Regions from separate parts of the Homo sapiens genome. Here all the other regions are linked to region 2. The links come from fine-mapping of genetic effects on gene expression. A gene starts in region 2. Each other region holds a variant in brackets. All regions are shown on one strand. Distances are between the middles of the regions. Region 1 has its middle 38 kb from the start of GBP6. Region 2 holds the start of GBP5 (guanylate binding protein 5). Region 3 holds the start of LOC105378838 (a long non-coding RNA gene).

What was found.
Region 1: its variant is fine-mapped to the expression of GBP5 in whole blood (INTERVAL, PIP above 0.99).
Region 3: its variant is fine-mapped to the expression of GBP5 in whole blood (INTERVAL, PIP above 0.99).

What each region holds. Positions count from the first base shown.
Region 1 is chr1:89,397,969-89,405,991 of GRCh38, forward strand. No RefSeq gene overlaps it. Among named protein-coding and RNA genes, the nearest start is that of GBP6, 38 kb to the left of the region's middle. The variant C/CTTT (reference allele first, on the strand shown) is at 4,270.
Region 2 is chr1:89,267,976-89,275,998 of GRCh38, forward strand. GBP5 (guanylate binding protein 5) reads right to left here and starts at 4,885. Exons shown (of 12, transcript NM_052942.5): 1 at 4,477-4,885; 2 at 2,780-2,887; 3 at 1,391-1,599; 4 at 754-881. The coding sequence starts at 1,580. It also overlaps the pseudogene LOC100421401.
Region 3 is chr1:88,607,762-88,615,784 of GRCh38, forward strand. The region is part of intron 1 of PKN2-AS1 (PKN2 antisense RNA 1); the gene reads right to left. It overlaps LOC105378838 (a long non-coding RNA gene), which reads left to right and starts at 7,526. Exons shown (of 3, transcript XR_947572.4): 1 at 7,526-7,606. The variant T/A (reference allele first, on the strand shown) is at 4,017.

The DNA of each region.
Region 1 (8,023 bases), 130 kb after region 2:
TCACTGAATCTGTAGATTTCTTTGGGTAGTATGGACATTTTTAAAATGTTCATTCTTCAAATCCATGCAAATGGAATAACTTTCCATTTTTTGTATACTCTTCGATTTCTTTCCTCAGTGTTTTGTAGTTTTCATTGTAGAGATTTTGTTTTTGTTTTGTTTTGTTTTTGTTTTTGTTTTGAGACAGAATTTTGCTCTTGTCACCCAGGCTGGAGTGCAATGGCACAATCTTAGCTCATTGCAGCCTCCACCTCCCAGGTTCAAGCAATTCTCCTTCCTCAGCCCCCCAAGTAGCTGGGATTACAGGTACCTGCCACCACAGCCAGTTAATTTTTGTATTTTTAGTAGAGATGGAGTTTCACCATGTTAGTTTCACCATGTTGGGCAGGCTGGTCTTGAACTCCTGACCTCAGGTGATCTGCCCACCTCGGTCTCCCAAAGTGCTGGGATTACAGGCTGAGCCACCATGCCTCAGACCTCGTTGTAGAGATCTTTCCATTCTTTTGGTTAATTCCTAGATATAAAATTTTATTAGCAGCTACTGTAAATGTGATTGCTTTTTTATTTCTGTGTCAGATTGTTTACTGTTGGCATATAGAAATGCTATGAGTTGTGTATATTACTTTTGTATCCTGAAACTTTACTGAATTTATCAGCTCTAATAGTTTTTGGTGGAGTTTTTAGGTTTTTCCAAATATAAGATCATGTTATGTGCAAACAAAGATAATTTGACTTCTTCCTTTCCAATTTGGATACCCTTTATGACATTCTCTTGTCCAGTTGCTCGACCTAGAACTTCTAGTACTATGTTGAATAACAGTGGTAAAGTGGGTATCCTTGTTATCTTCCAGGTATTAGAGAATGGGCTTTCAGTGTTCCCCCATTCAGTATGATATTGGCTGTGAGTCTGTCACATATGGCTTTTAGTGTGTTGAAGTATGTTCCTTCTATACCCAGTTTTATTAGGGTTTTTATTGTGAAAGGATGTTGAATTTTATCACATACTTTTTCAGCATCAATTGAAATGATCAAATGGTTTTTGTTCTCCATTATGTTGCTATAATGTATCACATTGTTTGATTTGCATATGTGGAAACAACCTTGAATCCCTGGGATAAGTCCGACTTAGTCATAAATTATTTTCAATGTATTGTTGAATTTGATATGGTAATGTAGTGTTGAAAATTTTTGCATCAATATTTATCAGAGATATTGGCCTGTAGTTGCTTTTTTTAAATAGAGTTTAAGTTGTAGGGTACATATGCAGAACGTGCAGTTTTGTTACATAAGTATGCATGTGCCATGGTGGTTTGCTGCACCCATCAACCCATCAACTACTTTAGGTATTTCTCCTAATGCTATCCCTCCCCTAGTCTCCCACCCCTAACAAGCCCCAGTGTGTGATATTCTCCTCCCTGTGTCCATGATTCTCATTGTTCAGCTCCCACTTATGAATGAGAACATGTGGTGTTTGGTTTTCTGTTCTTGTGTTAGTTTGCTGAGAATGATGGTCTCCAGCATCATCCATGTCCCTGCAAAGGACATGAACTCATCCTTTCTCATGGCTGCGTAGTATTCCATGGTGTATATGTGCCACATTTTCTTTATCCAGTCTATCATTGATGGGCATTTGGGCTGGTTCCAAGTCTTTGCTGTTGTGAAAAGTGCCAAAATAAACATATGTGTGCGTGTGTCTTTATAGTAGAATGATTTATAATCCTTTGGGTATATACCCAGTAATGGGATTGCAGGGTCAAATGGTATTTCTAGTTCTAGATCCTTGAGGAATCACCACACTGTATTCCACAATGGTTAAACTAATTTACACTCCCACCAACAGTGTACAAGCTTTCCTATTTCTCCACATCATCTCCAGCATCTGTTGTTTCCTGACTTTTTAATGATTGCCATTCTAACTGGCATGAGATAGTATCCCACTGTGGTTTTGATTTGCATTTCTCTAATGACTAGTGATGATTAGCTTTTTTTCATATGTTTGTTGGCTGCAAAAATGTCTTCTTTTGAGAAGTGTCTGTTCATATCCTTCACCAACTTTTTGATGGGGTTGTTTGTTTTTTTCTTGTAAATTTGTTTAAGTTTTTTGTAGGTTCTGGATATTAGCCCTCTGTCAAATGGATAGATTTCAAAAATTTTCTCCCATTTTGTAGGTTTCCTGTTCAGTCTGATGATGGTTTCTTTTGCTGTGCAGAAGCTCTTTAGTTTAATTAGATCCCATTTGTCAATTTTGGCTTTTGTTGCCATTGTTTTGGTGTTTAGACATGATGTCTTTGCCCATGCCTATGTTCTGAATAGTATTGCCTAGGTTTTCTTCAAGGATTTTTATGGTTTTAGGTCTTACATTAAGTCTTTAATCCATCTTGAGTTAATTTTTGTACAAGGTGTAAGGAAGGGGTCCAGTTTCAGTTTACTACATATGACTAGCCAGTCAACACCATTTATTTAATAGGGAATCCTTCCCCATTGCTTGTTTTTGTCAACTTTGTCAAAGATCAGATGGTTGTAGATGTGTGGTGTTATTTCTGAGGCTTCTGTCCTGTTCCATTGGTCTATATATCTGTTTTGGCACCAGTACCATGCTATTTTGGTTACTGTAGCCTTGTAGTATGGTTTGAAGTCAGGTAGCGTGATGCCTCCAGCTTTGCTCTTTTGGCTTAGGATTTTCTTGGCTATGCGGGTTCTTTTTTGGTTCCATATGAACTTTAAAGTAGTTTTTTCCAATTCCGTGAAGAAAGTCAATGGTAGTTTGGTTGGGATGGCATTGAATCTATAAATTACCTTGGGCAGTATGGCCATTTTCACAATATTACTTCTTCTTATCCATGAGCGTGAAATGTTTTTCCATTTATTGTGTCACCTCTTATTCCCTTGAGCAGTGGTTTGTAGTTCTCCTTGAAGAGGTCCTTCACATCCCTTGTAAGTTGGATTCCTAGGTATTTTATTCTCTTTGTAGCAATTGTGAATTGGAGTTCACTCATGATTTGGCTCTCTTTTTGTCTATTATTGGTGTATAGGAATGGTTGTGATTTTCGCACATTGATTTTATTTCCTGAGACTTTGCTGAAGTTGCTTATCAGCTTAAGGAAATTTTGGGCTGAAACGGTGGGGTTTTCTAAATACACAATCATGTCATCTGCAATCAGAGACAATTTGACTTCCTCTTGTCCTATTTGAATACCCTTTACTTCTTTCTCTTGCCTGATTGCCCTGGCCAGAACATCCAATACTATGTTGAATAGGAGTGCTGCAAGAGGGCATCCTTGTCTTGTGCTGGTTTTTAAAGGCAATGCTTCCAGTTTTTGCCCATTCAGTATGATATTGGCTGTGGGTTTGTCATAAATAGCTCTTATTAATTTGAGATACGTTCCATCAATACCTAGTTTATTGAGAGTTTTCAGCATTAGGGGTGTTGAATTTTGTTGAAGGCCTTTTCTGCATCTATTGGGATAGTCATGTGGTTTTTGTCATTGGTTCTGTTTATGTGATAATGTTTATTGATTTGCATATGTTGAACCAGCCTTGCATCCCAGGTATGAAGCTGACTTGATCATTTTTGATGTGCTGCTGGATTCCGTTTGCCAGTATTTTATTGAGCATTTTCGCATAGACGTTCATTAGGGATATTGGCCTGAAATTTTCTTTTTTTGTTGTGTCTCTGCCAGGTTTTGGTATTAGGATGATGTTGGCCTCATAAAATGAGTTAGGGAGGATTCTCTCTTTTTCTGTTGTTTGGAATAGTTTCAGAAGGAATGGTACCAGCTCCTATTTCTACGTCTGGTAGAATTTGGCTGGAATCTGTCTGGTCCTGGGCTTTTTTTCATTGGTAGGCTATTAATTACTGCCTCAATTTTAGAACTTGTTATTGGTCTATTCAGGGATTCAACTTCTTCCTGGTTTAGTCTTGGCAGGGTGTATGTGTCCAGGAATTCATCCATTTCTTCTAAATTTTCTAGTTTATTTGTGTAGAGGTGTTTATAGTATTCTCTGATGGTAATTTGTATTTTTGTGGGATCAGTGGTGATATCCCCTTTATGATTTTTTGTTGCGTCTATTTGATTCTTCTCTCTTTTCTTCTTTATTAGTCTGGCTAGTGGTCTATTTTGTTGATCTTTTCAAAAAACCAGCTCCCGTATTCACTGATTATTTGAAGGGTTTTTCGTGTCTCTATCTCTTTCAGTTCTGCTCTGATCTTAGTTATTTCTTGTCTTCTGTTAGCTTTTGAATTTGTTTGCTCTTGCTTCTCTAGTTCTA[C/CTTT]TTTTTTTTTTTTTTTGAGATGGAGTCTTCCTCTGTCACCTAGCCTGGAGTGCAGTGGCACGATCTCAGCTCTCTGCAACCTCCGCCTCCCAGGTTCAAGCAATTCTCCTCCCTCAGCATCCCGAGTAGCTGGGACTACAGGCGCATGCCCCCATGCCTGGCTAATTTTTGTATTTTTATTAGAGATGGGGATTCACCATGTTAGCCAGAATAGTCTCAATCTCCTGACCTCATGATCCACCCGCCTCGGCCTCACAAAGTGAGGGGATTACAGATATAAGCCACCACGCTGGGCCTAGTTATTTTAATTTTGATGTTAGGGTTTCAGTTGTAGATCTTTTCTGCTTTCTCTTGTGGGCATTTAGTGCTATAAATTTCCCTCTAAATACTGCTTTAAATGTGACCCAGAGATTTTGGTACATTGTGTCTTTGTTCTCATTGGTTTCAAAGAACATCTTTATTTCTGCCTTCATTTTGTTATTTAACCAGTATTCATTCAGGAGCAGGTTGTTCAGTTTCCACGTAGTTGTGTGGTTTTGAGTGAGTTTCTTAATCCTGAGTTCTAATTTGTTTGCACTGTGGTCTGAGTGACTGTTTGTTAAGATTTCTGTTCTTTTGCACTTGCTGAGGAGTGTTTTACTTCCAATTATGTGGTCGATTTTAGAATAAGTGCTATGTGATGCTGAGAAGAATGTATATTCTGTTGACTTGGGGTGGAGAATTATGTAGATGTCTATTAGGTCTGCTTTGTCCAAAGCTGAGTTCAAGTCCTCAGTATCCTTGTTAATTTTCTGTCTCCTTGATCTGTCTACTATTGACAGTGGGCTGTTAAAGTCTCCAACTATATTGTGTGGGAGTCTAAGTCTCTTTGTATGTCTCTAAGAACTTGTTTTATGAATCTAGGTGCTCCTGTTTTGAGAGCATATATATTTAGGATGGTTAGCCCTTCTCATTTTATTGATCCCTTTACCATTATGTAATGCCCTTCTTTGTCTTTTTTGATCTTTGTTGGTTTTAAGTCTGTTTTATCAGATATTAGGATTGCAACCCCTCCTTTTTTTTTTTTTCACTTTCCATTTGCTTGGCAAATATTTCTCCATCCCTTTATCTTGAGCCTATGTGTGTCTTTGCAAGTGTGATGGGTCTCCTGAATATAGCACACGGATGGGTCTTGACTCTTTATCCAGTTTGCCAGTCTGTGTCTTTAATTGGGGCATTTAGCCCATTTACATTTAAGGTTAATATTATTATATGTGAATTTGATCCTGTCATTATGATATTACCTGGTTATTTTGCACATTAGTTGATGTAGTTTCTTCATGGTGCCAATGGTCTTTATATTTTGGTATGTTTTTGCAGTGGCTGGTACCAGTTTTTCCTTTTCATATTTAGTGCATCCTTCAGGAGCTCTTGTAAGGCAGGCCCCATGGTGACAAAATCTCTCAGCATTTGCTTGTCTGGAAAGGATTTTATTTCTCCTTCACTTACGAAGCTTAGTTTCGCTGGATATGAAATTCTGGATTGAAGATTCTTTTCTTTAAGAATATTGAATATTGGCCCCCACTCTCTTCTGGCTTGTAGGGTTTCTACAGACAGATCTGCTGTTACTCTGATGGGCTTCCCTTTGTAGGTAACCTGAGCTTTCTCTCTGACTGCCCTTAACGTGTGTTCCTTTGTTTCAACCTTGGAGAATCTGACGATTATGTGTCTTGGGGTTGCTCTTCTCAAGGAGTATTATAGTGGTCTTCTCTATATTTCCTGAATTTGAATGTTGGCCTGTCTTGCTGTTCTCCTGGATAATATCCTGCAGTGTGTTTTCCAACTTGGTTCCGTTCTCCCCGTCACTTCTGGGTACACAAATCAATTGTAGGTTTGGTCTTTTCACTTAGTCCCATAGTTCCTGGAGGCTTTGTTCGTTCCTTTTTATTCTCTTTTCTCTAATCTTGTCTTCACGCCTTATTTCAGTAAGTTGATCTCCAATCTCTGACATCCTTTCTTCTGCTATTGATTCGGCTATTGATACTTCCGAATGCTTCATGAAGTTATCATGGTTTTTTTTTTTCAGCTCCATCAGGTCATTTATGCTCTTCTCTAAACTGGATATTCTAGCTAGCAGTTCCTGTAATCTTTTATCAAGTTTCTTAGCTTCCTTGCATTGGGTTAGAACATGCTCCTTTAGCTCAGAGGAGTTTGTTACTACCCACCTTCTGAAGCCTACTTCTGTCAATTTGTCAAACTCATTCTCTGTCCAGTTTTGTGCCCTTGCTGGAGAGGAGTTGGGATCATTTGGAGAAGAGGCATTCTGTTTTTTGGAATTTTCAGCTTTTTTGTGCTGGTTTTTCGTCATCTTTGTGGATTTGTCTACCTTTGATTTTTGAGGCTGATGACCTTTGAACAGGGTTTTTGTGTGGGGGTCCCTTTTGTTGATGTTGGTATTTTTGCTTTCTGTTAGTTTTTCTTCTCAAAGTCAGGCCTCTCTTCTGCAGGTCTGTTGCAGTTTGCTGGAGGTCCACTTCAGACCCTGTTTGCTGGTATCGCCAGCAGAGGCTGCAGAACAGCAAGGATTGCTGCCTGCTCCTTCCTCCAAAAGCTGTGTCCCAGGGGGGGCACTGGCTTGATGCCAGCTGGAACTCTCCAGTATGAGATCTCTGTCAACCCCTGTTGGGAGGTCTCTCCCAGTCAGGGACCTACTTGAGGAGGCAGTCTGTCCTTTAGCAGAGCTCAAGCATTGTGCTGGGAGAATCCTCCTCATCAGGATCAACTGCTCTCTTCAGAGCTGGTAGGCAGTAACATTTAAATCTGCTGAAGCTGTGCCCACAGCCACCCCTTCCCTCAGGTCTCTGTCCCAGGGGGATGGGAGTTTTATCTATAAGCCCCTGACTGGGGCTGCTGCCTTTCCTTCAGAGATGCTCTGCCCAGTGAGGAGGAATCTAGAGAGGCAGTCTGGCCACAGCTGCTTTGCAGTGCTCTGTTGAGTTCCACCCAGTCCAAACTTCCCAGCCTCCTTAGCACTGTCAGGAGAAAACCGCCTACTCAAACCTCAGTAATGGTGGACGACCCTCCCCCAACCAGGTTCAATTGTCCCAGGTCAACTTCAGACTGCTGTGCTGGCAGTGAGAATTTCAAGCCAGTGTTTCTTAGCTTGCTGGGCTCCGTAGGAGTGGGACCCGCTGAGCAAGACAACTTGGCTCCCTGGCTTCAGCCCCCTTTCCATGAGAATGAATGATTCTGTCTTGCTGGGATTCCACCACTAGGGGAAAAAAAAAAATTCCTGCAGCCAGCTCGGTGTCTTCTCAAACAGCTGCCCAGTTTTGTGCTTGAAACCCCAGGGTCCTGGTGGTATAGGCACGAGGGAATATCCTGGTCTGCAGATTGCAAAAACCACACGGAAAAGCGTAGTATCTGGGTGGGTAGCACAGTCCCTCAGGGCTCCCCTTGGCTGGGGGAGGGAGGTCCCTGGCTCCTTGCACTTCGCAGGTGAGTCAATGCCCCACCCTGCTTCTGCTCGCTCTCTGTGAGCTGCACCACTGCCTAACCAGTCTCAATGAGATGAACAGGGTACCTCAGTCGGAAATGCAGAAGACTACACCCACTGCCTAACCAGTCCCAATGAGATGAACAGGGTACCTCAGTTGGAAACACAGAAATCACTTGCCTTCTGCATTGGTCTCACTGGTAGCTGCAGACCGGAGCTATTCCTATTCAGCCATCGTGCCAGATCTAAGACATGTTAAGCATTTTTTTATATACTTGT
Region 2 (8,023 bases):
TTAAGTCCTGGCAAATCAAAAACAAAGACAAAAAACACACACACAGAAAAAAAACAATGGAAGTTCAAGAGAAAGATCCAGTTGTGTGCTGGAGCCAACTCATACCAACTCATGACAGCAAATTGTGTGCATGTCTTCCCAAGTCTGAGTTTAGTGAATTAACTTTGGTAGCTTGAAATCAATTATGATGGGAGTATTCAGAAAATAGTCAAGTGCTACAAATCATGGTTGTTTTTGTTTTTGTTATTTTGTCCTTGAGCTGGTTGTTAAGTACTTACCAGCATATAACTAGGAAAGGCCCATGTATCTACTGTTTTTAAGTAGTGAGTTGAATAAGAAAGACCAAAGAAAAAATAAAACATTTGGAGAGACTTACTTCTCTTATCAAAGTCAGAAAGCTACAAGTGCTAGAGCTCTGATTGGAACACAAGTTCATTTAAGAACAGAACCCACTATTAACTAGTATAATCTACAGGATCAGGCTTGTAACAGTGATTTTATATGCATCATGTTTATGCATTTGCGTTAATTGCCTAGCTCAACATCAACACTGCTCTTCTAATACTGATTCTGGCTTATAAATGTATTTTCTCATGTCAGGCTTCCAAACTCTGAATATTAAAAATACAAAGGAAAACAATGGGGGTATACATTGGTCAAGTGGAACTACAAATTTAGAAAAATAAACCTAAAATCTCCCTGTGAAAAGACAGTTCAGAGATTAGGAGGTTAAAAAAAGGAATCCTTCCTTACCTTCTCTACATCTCCCAGGCCCTCGGTGTCAAGCAGAACTAATGTGTGATTTGGCCAGTTGGGATGAGGCACACACCATATCCAAATTCCCTTGGTGTGAGACTGCACCGTAGATGCAACAGAGAAGCCTGTCAGGGGGAGTGAGAGGTTGTAATAGAAGAGAAACTCTGGAAATTGGGGATTTGCTTGATCATTCAGCTAGAGTTTAAGGAAAGCAAGATGAGGAGATAGCAGAATGTACAACCAGTATTGATTTGAATGATGATGCAGAAATGGAAAAACAATATCAAATACCATAGGTTGGAACTTTGATATTAAAAAAATATTATGCTACTAAAATGTTGCTAGTTTATAATTATGTATACGGGAATTACTTCATTGATGTCTTACTCCTTACAAGGAGAATATATTATACATTTTACAAGAAGAAATCAAGGCAAAGAAAAAAAAAAGAGGTGATATGTCAGGAACAGAGAACTGGTCTTCATCTTCCAAAAGATAAAAAGACCAGCTGTAGCCTAAACATTGGCTTTTAATATTCATCCTCATGTCTTACTCTCTCCTTGCTTCCTCGTACTGGATGGTGACTGTGTGAATGGACAGAAGGGTTTGGCAGAGCTTTGCTGGTACCACTCACCCTTGTTCTTCCCAGCCAGCTTGTTCATCAGGTAGGATTTGCCAGTGCGATAGAGGCCCACAATCGCTACCACAACTACAGGTTGCGTAATGGCAGACAGGATCTCCAAAGCTTCCTGATTAACCTTCAGCTGCTCATTAAAGTTCTCGATGAGGCACATGGGGTCTGACATGTGGATCTCTAAAGCCATGTCTAGGATGTTACTTTGCCTGCAAGGGAACAGATGGGATAGGCTGGAATTTCTGGTGTTTGTTTAATAAGCAAAGGAAGTCATTTTGCTTACTGAACCTGGGGACATACTACTCCCCAGCACTGCCTAAGTTTCTGGAAAAAAAAAGTTTTAAAATAAAAAGAGTCCTGTAAAATAGAGAGACTTTATTTTAAAACAAAAGTAAGTCCTAGGCCCTTTATATGTCTACTATAGGCCATTCTACTGGTTCTTAAATATTTGATAGGCATACGAAAATCCATTTCCTGCGTCTAACCTACTAGTTTGAATCTAACTCTTATTCCATTGGTTTTTGGCTTAGTTATGTTTTTTAGTTTTTACCTCCCTGGGTTCCTATATTAATTCTTTATGATGTTCTTTATTAATATATTACACTGTTCCTTTTACTTTGTGTCAACTTCATTTTTTTCAGTTAGATCTATGTCCAGTCAAACTGCATTACATTAAATACTACCAAGTCATTATGCAGCATTATCTAACAAATCATAGCTGTTTGCTTCTTAGTGATATACTTGAAATTTTTTACATAGTTACTAATGTGCTTTATTAAACCAAAACTTCAAAGCATGATTATTTTATGATTGACTGAATGAGTAAAACAACTTCCTTTAATAATACTTAACCTATTTTTTTCTAACTTCTGAGCATCAATCCCTATAACCTAAAGAGTCTCTGGTTAAAAAAAATGTTTGAGCTATATGAGAAAAAGCAAATGCCATAAAAATATGCTTTTCTACTTTGCCTTATCATAAAGGATAGTTTTCTTCCATTTTAAAGGTGGTTATTTACTAAGGATGCTAAAACTTCACTATCCGCTTGACGAGTTCTTTCACTAAAATCTTACAATGAAAAGGTTTGGATTCTCCATCTCTTTACTAGCAAATTTCAAAAACTGTCATTTTACAATTATGAAGACCCATTCTCCCTGCTTCCTCATAGCTAATGCCCTGGAAATCATTATGTTGACATAAATTAAAACAGAAACTGCTTGGCAGCAGAAAATAGGATATCCATTTGCAAATGGTGTAGCACTAGGACATGGGAGTCAGGAAATGCCTAGTGCAAGCCTGACCCAGAAAGAGGCAATTTTGCAACAAATTTAGAGACTCAAATGGCAGGTCTCTTCTCATTCTAATCTATTTTCAATGTAGTATTAGTACCTTATATATGTAGAATTCTGGTTGCCTGATTTGTATGCAGCGGAGGCCAGAATAATTTTTCCACTAGAAAGATATGGGCACCTTGAAGTGATGATCTACAACAATTAGCTAGAAAAACAAAAGATACATAAGCCAAATCTATAAGCAGATATTGAGAGCTTACAAGATCTTATGATTTGGGATGATGTCACTAAGGAAGAGGGAATGAATGTGTCTGAGTGTTCAGACTCTCTTATGAATGACAATAGCATTGTATATCTACATTAATAATAGTATTTGACATGTTGTCCCCAATGTCATCTGGATAGCATCTTTAATGCTTTTAGTAAAGCCAAATTTCTAAAACATTATTGCAGATTTAATGTGTTCAAGCCACAAACATAACTGTTGCTCTGTTATTCATAACTTAGTGTTCTGGGATGCATTCTCCCTAACTGCTTGAGCCCTATAACCTTTGCAAATAAAAACAATGCAAGAATGGTTCAAAATACACACACAAAATGCACATTTTGCCCTTGCCTTAAATTAGACTTGATTTCCAACCCCAGCCCTACAACTGGCTATCTGTATCTCTCTGGCATTTCACTCAATTCTTTCAGCTTGTTTTCTAAAAAAGCAAAAGTAAATAAACAACTATTTATTAACATCAGTATAACTGCTGGCTTATGAAAGAGAGTGAGCGAGCTGCAGGAGATTTTAAAAAGTGCAAAGAAGGAAAATGCCCAAAAAAAAATACTAAGAGAAAATGCTCAGAAGTGGTAGTGGAAGGATTTCTGAAAGAAAACATCTGTTTTCAGCCATATGATTCTAGTTTGGGTTTTGCGCCTGCATTTGTATATGTAGTTGTTATTGCTTGCTTTTGCTTATTTTGCATAGTTTCTGGTTTGAATTTCAAGGAAAAGGAAAAGGCTCTTATTAAGGATATAAATGGAAATCAAACTAGTACAAAATGCTTGAAGTATGTGTCATGGTAAGAAATTCAAAGGAGAGAATTTCAACGAGTGAACAGTTGCCAGACAGTATTGAGGGATCCAGTTGGGCAACTGTTAAATTAGGTGATTCATAATAGTAAAGGCAATAGAGTAGTAGAAGCAGAACCCAACACAAAAGGGGTTAGTTAAGTGAGTAGATGCCAAGAAACCAACATGAATTAAGTCAGGGCTATTGCTAAAGGAAGAAATCTACTTTCAAACAAAGTACAAGACTATGACTAAAAATACATCACTGTTTTCATGAAACTTCTCTCTGGGCAACATTTTTTTCTTGTCCTTAATGTTTGCAAGCTACTTACATTGCATCATATTCATTGTTCTTTCTCATGAAAATAATAGCTATCATAGTTTTTGAAACTTTCATGCTGAAGTTCGAGTCAGTTTAATCAGATTTTATGAAGGACGAAGGTAACTTAAGTGGAAATTATGATCCTGAATAAGTCATAAAATTGCAAAGGAAGAAAAATAATTTGAAGGCATTTCAAACTCTTAGTTTAGTCACCACACACATTGATGTCTAATTCAGCAAGAGGCAGACACAGCTGGTACTTGATGAATTCTGCTGCCTGTCTGATAAGAATACAATTTATTCTTTACTGAGGTCTGATATACCACATCAGGATAAGCTGCATCCTATCCTTTGTAGAATGTTTCTAAAACCAAATGAATCTTGCAAATCTCTTCCACCTCTTGCCCCAGTCTTACCGTGTCCGGAATTGGTGGGTTCTTGGTCTCACTGACTTCAAGAATGAAGCCGCGGACCCTAGCGTTGAGTGTCACGGTTCTTAAAGGTGGCGTGTCAGGAGTTTGCTCCTTCTGATGTTCGGATGTGTTTGGAGTTTCTTCCTTCTGGTGGGTTCGTGGTCTGGCTGGCTCAGGAGTGAAGCTGCAGACCTTCGCGGTGAGTGTTACAGCTCTTAAGGCTGCGCGTCTGGAGTTGTTTGTTCCTCCTGGTGGGTTCGTGGTCTCGCTGGCTTCAGGAGTGAAGCTGCAGACATTCCCAGTGAGTGTTACAGCTCATAAAGGCAGTGTGGACCCAAAGAGTGAGCAGCAGCAAGATTTATTGCAAAGAGTGAAAGAACAAAGGTTCCACAGCCTGGAGGGTGACCTCAGTGGGTTGCCACTGCTGGCTACTTCTCTTATCTGGCCCCACCCACATCCTGCTGATGGGTCCATTTTACAGAGAGCCGATTGGTCCATTTTACAGAGAGCTGATTGGTCTGTTTTGACAGGGTGCTGATTGGTGTGTTTACAATCCCTGAGCTGGACACAAAAGTTCTTCATGTCCCCACTAGATTAGCTAGATACAGAGTGTGGATTGGCCTATTTACAAACCTTGAGCTAGATACAGAGTGCTGATTGGTGCATTTACAAACCTTGAGGTAGATACAGAGTGCTGATTGGTGCATTTACAATCCCTTAGCTAGACATAAAGATTCTCCAAGTCCCCACCAGATTAAATAGATACAGAGTGCTGATTGGTGTATTTACAATCCCTTAGCTAGACATAAAGATTCTCCAAGTTCCCACTAGACTCAAGAGCCCAGCTGGCTTCACCCAGTGGATCTTGCACCGGGCGGCAGGTGGAGCTGCCTGCCAGTCCTGCTCCATGCACTGGCACTCCTCGGTCCTTGGGCCATGGATGGGACAGGGTGCTGTGGAGCAGGGGTCAGCACAGGTTGGGGAGGCTCAGGCAGCACAGGAACCCATGGCGGGGTGAGGTGGGGAGCGGGAGAGGGGAGGAGGCTCAGGCATGGCAGGCTGCAGGTCCCCAGCCCTGCCCCACCGGGAGGCAGCTAAGGCCCTGCAAGAAGTGGAGCACAGCAGCTGCTGGCCCAGGTGCTAAGCCCCTCACTGCCTGGGGCCGCTCCGAGTGCAGGTCCCTCAGAGCCCAAGCCCACCCAGAACTCGCGCTGGCCCTCAAGCACCGGGCGCAGCCCCAGTTCCCACCCCTGCCTCTCCCTCCACACCTCCCAGCAAGCTGAGGGAGCCAGCTCCGGCCTCGGCCAGCCCAGGAAGGGGCTCCCACAGTGCAGCGGAGGGCTGAAGGGCTCCTCAAGTGCCGCCAGAGTGGGTGCCCAGGCAGAGGAGGCACCGAGAGCGAGGGAGGGCTGCAAGGGCTGCCAGCACGCCGTCACCTCTCATTACCTTGATTATAAAATCGGGAGAAGAGGTATTTTAGAGCTAGTAAGAAAACTGCTTCCATGAGGGACTGGGCACGGTGGCTCACGCCTGTAATCCCAGCATGTTGGGTGGCCGAGGCGGGTGGATGACGAGGTCAGGAGATCTAGACCATCCTGGCTAACACGATGAAACCCCGTCTCTACTAAAAATATACAAAAAATTACCTGGGCATGGTGGCGGGCGCCTGTGGTCCCAGCTACTCGGGAGGCTGAGGCAGGAGAATGGCTTGAACCTGGGAGGCGGAGCTTGCAGTGAGCCGAGACTGCACCACTGCACTTCAGCCTGGGTGACAGAGCGAGACTCTGTCTCAAAAAAAAAAAAAAAAAGAAAAGAAAAGAAAAAAGAAAGCTGCTTCGATGAGAACTTGCTGAGTTCGAACTCTCGTCTTTTACTTTCACTGTGGTGATTTCTCATTTATTTTCTTCACTCAGTCCTGGGGTTTTTGTTCTTCCCACCCCATTTTCCCTGCTCGAAAAAGGAGACAATTTGAATACAAAATATGGAATAACAGAAAGGGGGATTTTTGAAAGTTCTCTGTAGGAAATAGAAACCAAAAAGGAAATTCAGTGACTAAGCCAGATGACAAAGGGAATTGCCCAACTGTTACCTAGTGTAGATAGGCTGGATGTATTTGACCTGACTTCTTTGAAACTGCATGTTTCCTAGAAACTGCAGAGAATCCTTTCAGTGCCAGCCATACTCCTCCCTGCTTCCATTGTTGTTGTTACTAGAAGAGAAATTTGAGATCTTTCACAGTTGTTCAAAGTATGTGGTATTTCAAACCTAGCTTGAAATACGTTGACATTCATCTCCAGTTTGGGAGTAGGCCAGGGGAAGAGCTCATATGATTTTTGAGGTCTATTGTTGTGAAATGTTAGAGCTGCTCACACAGGACTAAGTTTATTACTTTCGCAGTAGGTTCAGTAGCTGAGAACTTTAACTCACAGGCAAGGACAAAGTTTTTGGCACTTAGTACATGATGAATGATAACAAGGATATTATTTATTAGACATTTGTAATGCCCTGGACAGGTTTCACTACTTTGTGTGGATTATTCTATTTTAATTCTCCCAACAAATGCTTTCTCCCAATTTTACAAAAGCTAAGACACAGGGAGATTTAGTAACTTGCCCAAAATCACAGAGCTACTAATAAATGGATCTTAAGACTGAAACCCAAGCACTTTATTGTAGTCCTTTTGTGTTTGTTGAGTGAATCATCATAATAATCATCATTATTATTGTCCCTTTTTAATAAATGGATTCTAAGATCTGGACACTAAATATCTCATATTATCCTGGTTTCAATCCTACAAGACAATTTTTTTTCTATCTTTATTTTACAATGAACAGAGTGGCTGTTAGGCAGTATTTTTGGAGCTTTAGTTCCTAGACAAGGATTTGTGAGCAAGGGATATTTATTTTGAAGGTGCTCATAAGAAACGGGGTAGGACAGTGGGAAAGTGAAAACTGGAACGGAATGAAGCCAGTGACTGGGAACATATCTAGCAGGTTTTGTTGTGGGAACCAGGAGTTAGATCTCCTCAGGTAACTCTAGGAAACAATGTAAAATCTGCCTCCAATTTCCCTCTTGGGTGGGTTAGAAACCTGGGGTACTTTTCTTCCAACTTCCTTTCATTTCTGGATAAAGACTGGTCCTGAAAGCATAACCCCCTTGCACTCCTGACCTGGCCCACGTGTGGGCTGAGAAAAAATGCTTAGATGAAGGATCTCTGATGTTTGCAGTGAGATGCCATTGGAATGTGCAAGGTTGAGTGATAAAGGGAGATGGCCTTCACAGATGTTGTGGGTATCCCATCCATATTGCCCCTATCTTATGCAAAGATCAACCTTTCCTTAATGGCTTCTTCAATTTTGTGGCTGGTCGTTAGTTTAAATATATATATATACACACACACACACACACACACAATAGGAAAGTCTAAGCTATAGTCCTCTTTGCTGCAACTGATTTTGTGATCCTAACTGATATTCAAGATCTTCTCCTCTATTACCCATTCTAGGTTTTGCTCATACTTGATCAGGAGTTCTCCTTGTCTAGGTTGCCT
Region 3 (8,023 bases), 660 kb before region 2:
TTCATTTTGAAAACATAAATCAGTCAAGAATAAAATGGACGTTCATTACAATGGTATTCATAATCATGAAAATTCTTAAACAACCTAAATATTTATCAGTAGGAAAAGGTTAATTATGATATACCCACATAATGAAATATTATACAATAATTTTAAAATAGTGTATAGATTAATATTCATTGACATAAATAGATATATATGATTATTATGTATAATATAGTTACAAAAGAACATTTATAATAAATAACAATTATAGTACAAATTATAGTATAAAATATAGTACCTATAAATACATAGAAAAATGTGGAAAAATATGTGTATGTATGTGTGTATATTTTTTCCTGATTTATTTTTATTTTCTTTTTTCCAATTTGTCTGTTTCTAATTTTCTACAATTAATATGTATTACTTCTGCAACACGACTTTTTAAATTAATGCCCCACCCAAATTTTATTCACTTCTCAGGGACCTCAGATTGTGCGAAGGTCACTATCTCCATTTGACCAAAAATTGAAAAACCATCTATGGCATATTACTGCACTTTCAGGAATTGTCACTAGGTGGTACACTGTTTCTCTAGCAGATGTTCACGACCTTTTAATTTAAGTTAGCCATATGTACGTACTGCTGTGACTCTACAGACAATAACTTAGTTCAATAGTTTTTTTCATGTAAAAATTATTTCACCTTCCCCCACATCACTAACAACATAGCCAATTGCTCCATTGCCTAACTATAGGCACTCAAGAAATGTTTGTTGGGCAAATAAGGCATAACTAAAAATAGAAGCCGGGTGCAGTGGCTCATGCCTGTAATCTCAGCAATTTGAGATACCAAAGCAGGTGGATCGCTTGAACTCAGGAGTTCGAGACCAGCCTGGGCAATATGGCGAAATCCCATCTCTACAAAACAAATTTAAAAATCAGCCGGGCGTGGTGGTACACATCTGTAGTCCCACCTACTCTGGAGGCTGAGGTGGGAAGATCACTTGTGGCCAGGAAGTTGAGGCTGCAGTGAGCTGGGACTGCACCACTGCACTCCAGCCTGGGTGACACAGCAAGACCGTGTCTCAAAAATAAAATAAAAATAGAAATGGCTAAAGCATAAAATCTTGAGCAGCTTCTTCAATTATTTTGTGAACTTTCTAAATGAAGTTAAATAGGTTTTATGGTTGCCTTTTTTATACAATGCTCTGCATTGTGAATCTACAAAAAAAAATGGAATCAACATTTATTGAGCATACTTGAATCCCTTTTCTTACAAAGCATCTTTGAAGGAATGACATTCCAAGGAATATGATTTGGAAAATCTTGTCCTCAATGCTTTTCCATCTTGTTTAATGTAATCACCTTAGTGTCAACCCATCTGAAGTTCCAGTCTTCTTTACTCTTCATTATGGACTTCATCTTTGCTGCATTCATATTCCCCAGGACTATCAAGTCCCATGTTGGCACTAGCTATTATGTTGCTAGCCAGGTGCTGAAGTCTGTCAAATGCAGACTCTCTGCACTTAAAGCACTTCTCTCTGAGTAGAGCCAGTTTCACCACAGGTGTTGATTAAATAGATCCTGTTCCTATTCACACCTGATTCCAGTCTGAACTAAACTCAGTTCAAAGCCAAGAACATGCCTACTCTCCAGCCTCTAGTTCATATGAGACATTAAAATCTCATTTCCCTGCAATGCTTGTGAAATAGAGCTGAGTGACTTACTATGCACTCATTAAGTCAAACTTTGAAAATGTCTCCATTATCTAAAGAAAATAAAAAGTCAACCAGATACGTAGACATAGTCGTATTACACTGAGAAATGGTCTAAAGAAGCAACAATTGTTATCTATTATCCAGGTATCTGTTTGTCTCTTCCACGTGACTGTGAGCCCCTTGGGAATAAGAACCATGTAGAGTTCACCTCAGCTCCCCCAGTAACTAGCATGGTATCTGGAACATTGCAGACTTTAATAAATGTTTAAAGAATAAATAAATTACCAAAGGAGTGAATGAGTACAGTAATATGTTTATTAGTAAATACTAGAAGGAATTAGTTCTAATAAATTACATTTTAAAGAAGTTCTAATAATATCACATTTAAAAATCCTGTATTAATATATGTTCTAATAATATCATAGTTCTTATAATATCTAGTTCTAAAAATAGAATGAGATAGTTCTATTAGTTCTAATAATATCACATTTTAAAACCCTGTATTAATATATGTTAACATCAAAATTGCTTTCTTATTCAATTATTCTTTCAAAAAACAGTAAAGTACACACTGTATTTCAGACACTGTGCTAAGGATATAAAGATGGATTAGAAATAATTTTGTCTTCAAGAAGTATAGTATAGTGAATAACTTACATGTATTTAATGTTTCTTCGTGTATTTTCATACTTGATACTCAGAATAATTCAATGATACTGATGTCTTTCCCATCTACATTTAATTTTTTTTGTTTGTTTTTTGTTTTTTGTTTTGTTTTGTTTTGTTTTGTTTGAGATAAGGTCTCACTCTGTCGCCCAGGCTGGAGTGCAGTGATGTGATCACAGCTTACTGCAGCCTCGAATTCCTAGGCTCAAGCAATCCCCCCATCTCACTCTCTCAAGTAGCTGGGACTACAGGAGTACATCACCACACCCAGCTAATGTTTTTATTTTTTGTAGAGACGAAGCTTCTCCATGTTGCCCAGGCTGGTGTCAAACTCCTGGGCTCAAGTGATTCTCCTGCCTGGGCCTCCCAAAGTGCTGAGATTACAAGTATGGGCTGGGCGCCGTGGCTGATGCCTATAATCCCAGCACTTTGGGAGGCTGAGGTGGGCGGATCACCTGAGGTCAGGAGTTCGAGACCAGCCTGGCCAACATGGTGAAACCCCATCTCTACTAAAAATTCAAAAATTAGCCAGGCGTGGTGGCAGGCTCCTGTAATCCTAGCTACTCAGGAGGCTGAGGCAGGAAAATCGCTTGAACCTGGGAGGCGGAGGTTGCAGTGAACCAACATCGCGCCATTGCACTCCAGCCTAGGGGACAAGAGCAAGACTTCATCTCAGAAAAAAAAACACACAAAAAAAACAAGTATGACTCACCATCCCCGGCCTACTTTAAAACATTTTTTAAGTAATATGTAGATACAAAGGAATTCGTATAAAATTGGTGTAGGTATAAAGTATAACACGCTCCTGTGTAGATGTCCTCAACTTAAGGACAAGGACCTTTAAGTCCTCTGTGTCCCATTTCATTTCCCCTAAGAAATACTTCCCTGAATTTTCTCTTTATCCTTCCCTCATTTTTATTTACATTTAACCATGTTTGTTTTGCTAAGCAATATATTATGTGCTTTTGCATATTTTTGTACTTTTTTCAAATGGAAACATACTGGAAACTTACTCTTTCTGCTCAACATTATAGTTTTGGCTTGTATAGTCTTAATCCACATGGATTTGGTTTTTTATATATAGTGTGAGATAAGGTTGCAATTTTAGTTTTTAAATTCACACAACCACACAACCAATTGTTCCAGTGCCACTTATTAAAAATGTCATCTTTTCCTAAACAATTTGCAGTGTCATCTCAGTCATGAATAAAATTTCCGTTTTTGTATTGGTCTGTTTCTGGGCTCTCTTTTCTCCTTTGTTGGTCAATTTGTACAGTTCTGCACCTTATTCCAGACTGTCTGAAGAAATAGAGCTTTATAATAAATTCTTAATTTTTGATAAGCAAGTTATTCTACTCTGTACTGCTTCTTTAGAAATGTCTTATTTACTCTTAATCATTTGTACTTGATATAAATTTTAAAATCAGTTTGTCATATCTCCTTTATACATATAATTGAATGGAACATCAAAGTGGCTCATAATGAACCATGATGAAGACAAAGTTTGAACCCATGCCTTCTAACTCCCAAATCCAAGACTCCTTTTTTCTTTTATTTTTTTTTTTTTTTTTTTTTTTGAGACAAGTTCTCACTTTGTCACCCAGGCTGGAGTGCAGTGGTACAATCATAGCTCACTGTATCTTCAACA[T/A]CCTCAGCTCAAGCAATTTTCCCTCAGACTCCCCAGTAGCTGGGATTTCAGATACACACCACTGCGCCCAGCTAATTTTTTGTATTTTTTATAGAGACAGAGTCTCACTTTGTTCCCAGACTGTTCTCAAACTCCTGGCTTCAAGCAATCCTGCCGCTTTGGCCTCCCAAAGTGCTTGGATTACAGGCGTGAGCCACCATGCCCAGCCTCCAAGACTCCTTCTATGTAGCACTCAGCATTTCAGGGTTTTAATACTCTTTAATATCCCCACCAAAAGATAAGCTCATACAGCTACTTCGGAGTATTCTGCAACTAATTTATCAGAAGATCCACCAAAATGTAATGTTCTTTAAGGGATTCCATGGGACTATGCTGAAGTTCTTTAATGGATAATTATTGCAAGGCTGCTAGATGTTTGTTCAACATCCAATTATTCTCCCATTGTTCCTCAGTGATACAACCTTCATTTTATTGGGGCATGAGGGCAAAGTTGCCCAGCTAATAAATACTAAATTTCCCAGCCACCTTTGTAGATAGAGGTATCCATGTCTCACTGTTCTGCCCAAGGAGACATAAGCAGCTGTTTGGAGGCAGGAAAAAGGAAAATTCCTCAAAGAGGGAGGGGCAGACTCAGCTGACAGGCCCTTTGTGCCCTTTGAGTCCTTTGTGCCCTTTGTTCTTTCTCCTTCGTGCATCCTAAACTGCACACATAATGGCAAGTGTTGCAGCAGCCACTTGCATTTGACCACAAGGGGAAGGCCAAGAGAAATTACAAAGATCTGAGGGATATGCTCTCCTTGAGCCTCTGTACCATCCTTGTATACCATTCTTTCAGACTTTTCATTTTATTTAAGAAAAATAAACCTCTATTTGACTCAAGACACCGCCATTTGGGTTTTCTATTACAAACAGCCAAATTTAATATCTACTGATAAAGAATCAAATAGCACCTTTGCTCTAAAATTATATCTGCTTACAGTTATCTCTTCCATGGTATATAGTACAGAACTTTTACAGCTCCAACCCAGCCATTAAGTCAAAGTTCTTTTCCAGGGTACAAAGTGAGCTCCACCTACGGTACTACTCATGTTCATGCTCGAATGGGTTGGGCATCTGTTACAGTGAAAATATATGCCCCTTGGCCAGGTGCGGTGACTCATGCTTGTAATCCCAGCACTTTGGGAGGCCAAGGCGGGTGGATCATTTGAGGTCAGGAGTTCAAGAATATATGACCCATGTAAACTGGCACTCTTACCCACTTCAACTTCCCTCATGCTGGCGTTTGACGTATATGACTCTAATAAGTACATATTAACACTTCAAGTCCTTTTTAAAAGATTAAGGCCAGGTGCAGTGGCTCATTCCTCTAATCCTAGCACTTTAGGAGGCTGAGGAAGGTGGATCACTCGAGACCAGCCAGGCCAACATGGCAAAACTTCGTCTCTACTAAAAATACAAAAAATTAGCCGGGCACGGAGGCGGGCGCCTGTAATCCCAGCTATTCAGGAGGCTGAGGCACAAGAATCACTTGAACCTGGGAGGCAAAGGTTGCAGTGAGCCGAGATCACACCACTGCACTCAGCCTGGGTGACAGAGCAAGACTCTGTCTAAGAAAAAAAAATAGTAATAATAATTAACTCTTAGAAGAAGGCAGGATGGTAGAAGTGTTTAGCCCAACTTCCCTTGCAATGTATGCAAGCATGGATGTTTGACATTCTACAGACACCGAACATCTGGCAAGACATCATGCTAAAGGTTGTAAGGGGTTCAGAGATGAAGACATAGTCCCTAGTTTGAAAGAGTTTATAATCTAGTAAAGAAAACAGGCTAACTTGATGATTCCACCTTCTGAGGCTGAGACTCAAATTCTTGGAATAAGAGATTGAGGGCCAAGGTCAATGGGAACCTGCACATTTCTACCATCTACCATGGGCCCAGAAAAAAAGAATTGTGGCAATATTGTATTTATCTCAGATGCCACAGAGCATCTGTTTTTTAAATTTTATGTATAGGATCTCTGTCCTTTTTTAATTCCTATTTGCCTTATTTTACATAACATGTACTGCCATTAAATCTGGAAGTCCCAACTGCTTTTGAAAAATTAAAAATATATATATAAACTAATTTATAGGTTGAGGTGGGAGGATTGCTTGAACCCAAAATTCTCAAGCAGCAGTGAGCTATGATCACACCACTGCACTCCAGCCTGGGCAACAGAGCAAGACCCTGTCTCAAAATAAATAAAATGTCATAAACTATGAGATATAGTGAGAAGATTATTAAAATAAATCATAAATATTGGTTCTAAGACTCATTGGCTATGTTATCTTTGGCAAGTGGTTTAAACTCTCTAACACCATGTGTTCCCCCACAACCTGAGGCTATACCCATTTACCATGCAGAGTGCTTGTGAGGTTCAAATGATAAAAGTGTATGTGATTTGACAAAAAAAAATTCATTGCATGCCTACCATGAACAAGCACTCTTCTAGTCACAGTGAACAGAAGACACTCTGCACTCATGCACCTATAATATAGTAGGTGATAAAGACACGTAATATCAATAGTGAAAGTGCTAAGAAGAAAAATAAAGTATGTAATTATCATTACTGTTAAAGATAGGGAATTAGAGAGGATGTAAAGAAAAATTAAAAGTCTCCAGGGTTAATTTAACTTTCCGTTTAGCATAATGAGTTTAGGATTCTCTGAGACATTTTACTTTATGAGCAGAAGGTTCCTTTTGTGATAGGCTTGCCGGGAAGGAGTATCATTTGAACAGAGTCCTGAATGAACAGGGAGATGGACAACATAGATATCTGGAGAAAGGCTATTTAAGCAAAGAGAAAAAGAGGCAAAGGCCTAGAGACTGGAGCATGTTTGACCATTCAAGTACCCAGCAGATATTCAGGACATGATAGTTCCTTTGCAGCAGTGATATTTCCAGCTGCCCATTCTGCAACAAAGTTGTACCACCCCTTCATCTCCTTCAGTCTGAACTCTGGACCATACCACAAGCTATCTCTTTCTTTGAAATTCTCACACTACCAGCACTCTCACTCTCTTCTTCTCTTTTAGGTTAAGCTAAATGCTTAAAGTGTCCTCTTTTTGAAAGTTAACATATACTGAGAGCCAGATATGTGTTGAGCATTTTACTAAACAGTTTGAGTATTTTAACTTATTTGATCCTCACAAAAATCCTAGATAGTTATTATTGTGTTCCAAATGTGGAAACAGATTAAAAAGTTGAATATGGTCAAGTTCACCCAGCTAAGTTGAAACTTCAACCGAAGACATCTTGTATTTATGTCCATCAGATTAGCCACTATCCTATGCTACTTTCTTGTCAACTAAAGATACTGCAGACCTATTGATGAACAAGTTTGGAATAATCTCTGTTAAGGAAAAATCAATTGTCCTAAAGGAGTGATTTGCAATTCCAGCCTTCTAGAACTCTGGAGTGCTCATAGTCATTCATTCATTCAACATTTATTAAGCACCAGTTATGTGCAAGGACTGTGCAAGATTCTGGGGATAGAGCATGCAGCTAAAAAAGGCCCCTGTCCCAATGAGTCAAAGGTATATCAAAACTCTGTAAGTGAAATTTGTTTGCTATACTTTAAGAGTGGGGGAAGGTATATAAATAGAATAAAATAATTATAATAAACTGTTACCACCAGGGTATCTCAATTGCAAAGATAAGTTGAAAATCACCTCTCTAAAGAAGAGAGAGAGTCTAAAGGAATCTGCCTGTGTCATCATCAAGTCCCATTTGCTATATCCCAAAGGAGTCTCTTTATACTAGATTTTCAAGTATCCCATCATAAGAGTTAAAAGTCATTAGGTCCAAATGTGTTCTTTATTGTTTGAGGGTTTTCATCTATGTGTATTTTTACTACCTGGGGTTTGAAAAGCTGCAAACTAAATTTCATAAACCATAAAAACTTATAATGCTATTAACTTGGGATGAGCTTAATCTTTCATTTCCTATCTCCTTCAACCTTACTGGAG